Linked DNA regions of Homo sapiens. The protein of the gene in region 1 purifies or fractionates together with the protein of each later gene. This does not show direct contact. Each region holds a gene or a part of one and is shown in the gene's direction. Other genes may lie near its edges.

What was found.
Region 2: the proteins of TOX (region 1) and KLHL6 purify together in Homo sapiens (affinity purification with western blotting; one study listed by BioGRID). This does not show direct contact.

The regions. Positions count from the first base shown.
Region 1 is NC_000008.11:58,818,566-58,822,394, reverse strand, and holds part of TOX (thymocyte selection-associated high mobility group box protein TOX), read left to right. Parts: intron 1-3,829. UniProt on the Homo sapiens protein: Transcriptional regulator with a major role in neural stem cell commitment and corticogenesis as well as in lymphoid cell development and lymphoid tissue organogenesis.
Region 2 is NC_000003.12:183,506,976-183,510,804, reverse strand, and holds part of KLHL6 (kelch-like protein 6), read left to right. Parts: intron 1-2,296; coding exon 2,297-2,746; intron 2,747-3,829. UniProt on the Homo sapiens protein: Involved in B-lymphocyte antigen receptor signaling and germinal center formation.

The DNA.
Region 1 (3,829 bases):
TTTTAGGCTCTGTCATTTAAAGGGGGAAGTTGGAAAAGGTCATAAAATTGGCTGGAAGGCCGAAAGTTAGAAGGTAGTAGCAGAAAAAGAGAGGATTCAAGATTATGAAACCCAGAAAACAAAGACTCAAAGGTGTTTAAGTCCACATTGGCATTAGACATAGGGTGGTGATTATTCATGCTTAATTTTCTCTGACTACAGAATAAGAAAATAGGTTCCATTTCAAATTAGATTAATTTAATCTGAACAGGGGACATTGCTAAACTCTTGAATTGTTAAACAACTTCTTTCCATAGAGAAACTTAAAAGCAGAAGCAAATGTTATAAATAAGGATTGGAGGCCTCTAAGGCAACTTCAACCTCTGCACTTTCATATGGAATCACAGGAAGCCTGTTCTAGGACATCTAAAAAGTGCCACCTCTATCATACTGGGAGAGTCCTCAGACTGAGGAGTCTGTAGTCTCTGGGGCGGGTGGATCTGGATTCGAATCCCAGGTTTCCCACTTCCTAACTGCATATCTTCATGCAGTTCCTTGTATGTTCTAAGTCTCCATTTACTCAAATGTTAAACAGAGAAGATAATAGGACCTACATCTTAGGGTTTCCATGAGGATAAAATAAGCAAATCTATACAAATTACATGGTTCACTTGAGGACATTATGCTAAATTAAATAAGTCAGTCACAGAAAGACATGTACTGCATGATTCCACTTATAGGAGGTATCTAGAATAGTCAATTTCATAGACTCAAAGAGTGGCACGGTGGTTGCCAGGGCTGGGAGAGGGGGAAATAGGGAGTCAATAATCAACAGGCAGAAAGCATTCCTCAAACCAGATGAATTAGCTCTGGAGATCTGCTGTACAACATTGGACCTAGAGTCAACAATACTGGATTGTACACTTGAAAATTTGTGAAGATGGTAGATCTCATGTTAAGTGTTCTTATCACAATACAATTAAAATTTTTAAAATTCAAAAATTTAAAAAATAAACAGCATGACTCAGCATCCTGAACATAGGAAGCACTTAATAAATATAAGCTATGAGTATTATTATTAATTTTATTTTTAGTATTAGTAGGTATAGAAAGGAGGGGGGAAAGATTTGCATATCATTGAAAATTTAGCTGGATGATATTTTCAATTTGTCTTTATATCAAAGGCTACTTTGATATAAGGAAATTTTAAAAGTGACATTAAAAAGGAAAATTTTGCATCATAGATGCATTTCTTTATAAAGATATGATCTAGATATAAACAAAAATGCATTCATCTATAGTTTTCTTAATTGAAATGATCTTTATGAACCCTGCAAAGAGGTCCAAGGATATATGCTATTATGGAGGCTTGGCCTTCCCATCTTAAGCAATTTTACACGCTATTGAAGGTCATATGGGGTTGGACTGTCAAATAAAGCTTAAGGAAATATAGTTTTTCCATAGACTCGGGAATTCCTAGACATGGATCTAAATTATTATGCTGAAAACAATGTATAACTATAGAGCAATGGAACTAGTTTCATTTTACCACATAGACCAGAATTTATATTCCCAAAATGAGTGTTGCATTCAAAGTAGTCACCTTGGGAGGCTGCAAACTCATTTTATTATTGCTCCCAGAGTTCAAAAAATTTTTGAAACTCCTCTTTTAGAACTGTAGTCAGGAAAAGTTTATGAGCCACATTAGAAAATCAATCTTGTTACATTGTTTTCACACCTCATTCTTTTCCCCAAACATCACCCAGATATAACCCGCAGACTTGGCTTCAAGTGACTATTAGCTGTTTCCAAAAATCAAATTCACCATCAAAAGACAAAGAGTTGTCTGAGGATATGTAAAACAGTGTCTCACAGGCTCTGAAGAGAATTCCAGTAGGGAAGCTCCCAAATATCCCAAATAAAGGCAGCATTATTGAAATAAGTGTACAACTTCTCAGGATTGCCAACCTGGAAGGATATGGCATTTGGATAACTATGTTCTGGTTTATTAAATAAAGGCAATCAGATTCATGATTTTAAGGTCATAACATCAAATATAAGATTTTGTTTCTACCTTAAGGAATAGTTCATGAAGTGCTAAAATTTATAAAGGACAAATGGAAACCTTTTTTTTTTTTAACGTACAGAACAGGACAATATTGAATTAAGTCAAGAAAGTTCTCTGTTTCCATAGTCAGTAGTAAAGAAGCACAATGCTTAGTTCAATTAAAGGAAAGTGGATTTGAAAAAAACAGTTTCTTTTTATAGAATGAGGCAAACTTACAGATACCATGCCATGGTGAGCTATGGAGACAAATATTGAGTCTGAATTTGCAAATGGGATGGATCATTGTATGACTGTTAACGTAAAATTTGCAGCTCTGTAAACCCAGATCGTGATTTAAAGATAATAAAATCTCATGCTTCAGGGTATAAGTTAATCACCTGCATGGAGCAGAAAGAATTTTCCTTCCAGAAGGAGCAATGCACAATTGAGTAGGTGCATAAATTTTGTTTAATTTTCAATGCATTAAGTATCGGTCAGTGCTGAAAACAAGAATCAAATTAGATGGACTATTAATTTGATTTGGTTCAGCAACTCTTATATTGTTCCTTCCACTGATTTTTATGCATTGTATTTATACTTTGCTATTTTAAATAACAATAGCTTTGTCAATCTTTCATTTTTATAGCACATATCATCCCAGAATGGGGAAATTTATACACTATGCAGTATTATCTTCATTATACAAAGTAAATGGGATTGAAGCTACCTTCAGTAATCAACAATTTGGTTAGTAAAAGGTATCTTCAGGCTTATAGAGTTGTATCCTTTATACATTTTGCATATGTCAAAGGAACTCCCTACAGATAATACTCAAAATGTCTCTATGGCCACGACCCCCACTTTATGGCTTGTAGAAAATATCTTCCAGAATCTGTCGTCTAAATGCAAATAGGAAAGAGAACATACTCAGAAACTAACAGCAAGAACACATTCCTTCTGTGAAAGTGTGGGATTCAAAGGTTGATTTTCAGTTGTCTACAAGCTAGGAAACACATTTGTCAGGTGACCAACATGACACTCATTGCTAAATAAAAGTGGTTAATGTGTTTAAAAGTGGAAACAAATGCAAATTACTTAGTATGTATGAGAAAATAGTTCTAATTTCTGAATGATAGGTATAGAAGTCTTCATATGCAATATAATTGATCAGCAAAATTGTAGCCTTGCTTTCACAGTTAAATTGGGAAAAAATGACAGTAAGAGTACATTATGATTTCTATGTATTTTCATTTAATCACATTATGAATTTATGGCAGTTTGCCACTGAAAATGAACTTATTCTACCTATCTTCCAGAACAATAAAATAACTCTGTAATTAATAGATGGTCTATTGTACTAGACTGCTTAATAATTAATGAAAAGCGAAGCCAGAAGCAGGTTTTTCCTCATCTAAATGAGTGGACCATTACATAAACATACAAATTCCCAAAGTATGGGTGAGACTGAACTAGCTGCCCTGCTACTGCCATTCCCCCAAGACCAGTGAGGCATAAAGGGCAGTGTATCTAACCAAAGGACAGAGCGGAAAGCTGTAATTTCTCATCACTTCAGGAAGGGTTTGGGTCCTGCCGAGAGCAGAGAAGAGCATGAGGAAGGTCAATCTAATACTCTGTGGCTTTTCCAAGCCTTCAGATCCTTCCTCACTCCATGGGAAGAGGAACGGTGTGTCTGGTCAAGAGGGCAAGTCAGCAAGGGCAATGGTGGCTGCCTGGAGGATTGCTCAAGAATAGTCATTCACTCCTTAGAAAACATAATTGTGTTTTTATGTATTTTGCACTATG
Region 2 (3,829 bases), on another chromosome or scaffold:
GCCTCCCAGGTTCAAGCATTCTCCTGCTGCAGCCTCCTGAGTAGCTGGGATTACAGGCATGTGCCACCACGCCTGACTAATTTTGTATTTTTAGTAGAGACGGGGTATCTCCATGTTGGTCAGGCTGGTCTCCAACTCCTGATCTCAGGTGATCTGCATGCCTCGGCCTCCCAAAGTGCTGGGATTACAGGCGTGAGCCACCGCGCCCGGCCTAAAAAATGCTTTTTAAACTGACAATCCTATGTGATCTGACACAGAAAGATAATATTTTGCAATAGAGGTTGATCCAAAAAGTCAGGGATGTGTTCCCTGGAATGCTCTGGAGTAAAGTCCAGAGCCTAGGTCACCTTGGTCCACTCTTAGAACCAGTCCTGCCCCACTATCAACCTTCAGGCTCGATAGCCCCACTCCCCACAGCTCCTGCCAACCCTCCCCAGTCAGGTCTGTCCTGTCCCTACTCTCACCAGGACCTGCCTTCAGAAGGCCTCCCCCACCCCCACCAGGTCTTGCCCCCTCAGCCTCCCCTTTCCTCTCCCCCCATTAATCGATCAACCCATGGGCACCAAGAACTTGACCCTATAAGGAGTCCAGTAGACGGGGAAGGGAGCTAGGAGGTTGAAATTGTTCAAAGCTAAGCTCCAGAGAACAACAAATAAGAATGAACCAATGCATTTGAGACATGTCATCTGTAAAATGGATATTACAAAATATAATGGATATAACAGTGCTTTGTCATCTGTAAAGTGCCCTACAAGCACAAGGGACTTGAATTTTTATGAGGATGGTGATAACTTAAAAGTGGGACCTGAGAGCCAATCAATAATTTTACAAATTGATTTTTTAATGACAAAAGCGGTACGTATTCATTTTAAAGGATATATAAATAAATAAAACATATAAATAAACAAAAACAGAAAAATTCTCATAGTCTTCTTAGAGTGTCATACCTTCTATTATTTATATAGTATATTCCCTGTCCATCCCATGAGACCTGTTTCTGTGGGAGAACTATGGTTCCCTTGATGACAAATTTTGCCATGTGACTTACTCTGGACGGTTTTGTGTAAATGGATATAGCATGCGCCCCCTCTGAGCAGAAGCTTTAAAAGCCTCTGTGTGGTTCTGCCATCTTTTTCCCCTTCTGTCATGGGACCAGCATGTCTCAGGTAAGGGCTTTCCATCTTCCTGGCCCCTGGAATGAAGAGCCCCGTGAAGAACACATAGTGGGTAAGAGGAACATTTATTGTAAGCCCCTGAGACGTGAGGGTTGTTTGCTGCTGCAGCAGAATTTGCCTTAAGATACCTGATAACCCAAAGAGATAACAACCATTAATATTTTGACCTACATCCTTTCATCTTCTTTCTATGACTTTATTCTGTGTATGTTTTCTTTATAAAAATAAGGTCACAATGTACATATGATTTGTGACGTGCTTTTCTCATTTTATCTGCAAATATTTCACTTATAGCTCTAAAAAATAAGGATTCTTCTTCAACATAAACATGAAACCATTATGGCACCTAAAATGAATCATAATTGTTTCATTAGCACCAAATATTAGTCATTGTAAACATTTCTCCAACTTTAAAAAATATATATTGTTTAAATCAGGAATCCAAATAAGATCCATACTTTGCAATTGGTCAATGTGTCTTAAATCTCTGTTTATCTTTAGGTTCTCCCTCTCCTTCTCTCTCTCTTTTATCCCCTTGTAATGTATTTGTTGAAGAAACTGAACAAGTTGTTCAGTAGAGTTTTCCACAATCTGGATTTTGCTGATCATGTTCCCATGACGTCTTTAGCAGGTTCCTCTTTCCCTGTATTTCCTGTAAATTGCTGAGTAAATGTAGAGGCTTAATCAGATCCAATGAACAGATTTTAAAACTCAATACATTATGAACATTTTCTATTTCATTTAATATTTTCTACAACATGTGTTTTAAGTATCTACAGAGCTATCGACTGTATGAATGAATTATATGTATTTAGCTAGTCCCGTAAGTGTCTCATTGTTTTAAGTCGACTGTATGAATGAATTATATGTATTTAGCTCCTCCCGTAAGTATCTCATTGTTTTGTCGACTGTATGAATGAATTATATGTATTTAGCTCGTCCAGTAAGTATCTCATTGTTTTAAGTCTACTGTATGAATGAATTATATGTATTTAGCTCATCCTGTACTGTTGGACATTTAGGTTGTTTCCAATTTTTGGCTAATACACATAACTCACTGATAAACCTCCTTGTGGACTCACCATTTTCTGGCCTCCTTTCCACCCTTTCTATTTCATCAGTTCCTGCGGATGGTGGATGCCTGTGCCAGCTTCCTCACTGAAGCCTTGAACCCAGAAAACTGCGTTGGAATACTGAGGCTGGCTGACACACACTCGCTGGACAGTCTAAAGAAGCAGGTTCAGAGTTACATCATTCAAAACTTTGTGCAGATTCTGAACTCTGAGGAGTTTCTTGACCTGCCCGTGGACACTCTGCACCACATCTTGAAGAGTGATGACCTTTACGTGACCGAGGAGGCTCAGGTGTTTGAGACCGTGATGAGCTGGGTCCGGCACAAGCCATCAGAACGACTCTGCTTACTCCCCTATGTCCTCGAGAACGTGCGCTTACCGCTTCTGGACCCGTGGTACTTTGTGGAGACGGTGGAAGCAGATCCTCTCATCAGGCAGTGCCCAGAGGTCTTCCCGCTGCTCCAGGAAGCCAGGATGTACCACCTTTCTGGCAATGAGGTGAGTAGAAGATAAGAGGTGCTATATTTAACCAGCGAAGTAAGGAGTTAGCTAGGGGCTCACAGAGATGCAAGCAAAGCGGATTCAAAAATCCTTAGGGCATTAAGGAGAAAACACTGCCCTGTTCATTGCTGAGTCGGTCAGTTCCAGAAGCCCTGATTCCTGATCTATGAGGCCGATCCCACGTGTTCAGACAGTTACTGAGCGCGTTAGGTGAGATGTAGAAATCACCCAGCACCATGCCTGGCCCGTGCTTCCTCTTCCCAGTTGTGGAAGGGTGGGAGGTTGGGGGTCACACTGCACGCACAAACAAGAATGTGCCCTGGGCCGGGCCTGGTGGCTCACACCTGTAATCCCAGCAGTTTGGGAGGCCCAGGGCGGGTGGATCACGAGGTCAAGAGATCCAGACCATCCTGGCCAACATGGTGAAACCCTGTCTCTACTTAAAAATACAAAAAAATTAGGTGGGCATGGTGGCATGCACCTGTAGTCTCAGCTACTCGGGAGGCTGAGGCAGGAAGATCACTTGAACCCGGGAGGCAGAGGTTGTAGTGAGCCGAGATCACGCCACTGCACTCCAGCCTGGGCAACAGAGGGAGACTCTGTCTCAAAAAGCAAAGCAAAACAAAACAAACAAAAAACAAAAAAAACAAGAACGTGCCCTGTCTAGTCACTATTCCATGGGGGTGCTGCTCTTCCTTGCCCACTCTGGTGAAATCTTGTGTCTCTTGTATATACTCTGACATCACTTTGATTTAGACTCTCACCATCTGAATTTCTGGAAATTTCTCAAAACTCATCTTCCTCCCCCAAGTCTGGCCTCCCTCCAATTTATTCACCAGCTGAAAGATCTGAAACTCAAGTCTGATCATCTTGCTCCTGGGCTTGCCTTCTTCATTGGCTCCCCATCACTTTCAGAATAAAGCCCATACTTCCTGCCTACGTTCCCAGAGCCTGGTCTTGCATCATTAATCTCCTGCCTGCTTCTCTAGTGTCCTCTCCAACCTCCCACTTCTGCTCTAGTCCTAATGCACAGCTTGTGGTTCCCCAAAGTGGATGTGCTTTTTCTGCCTCCAGGTCAAT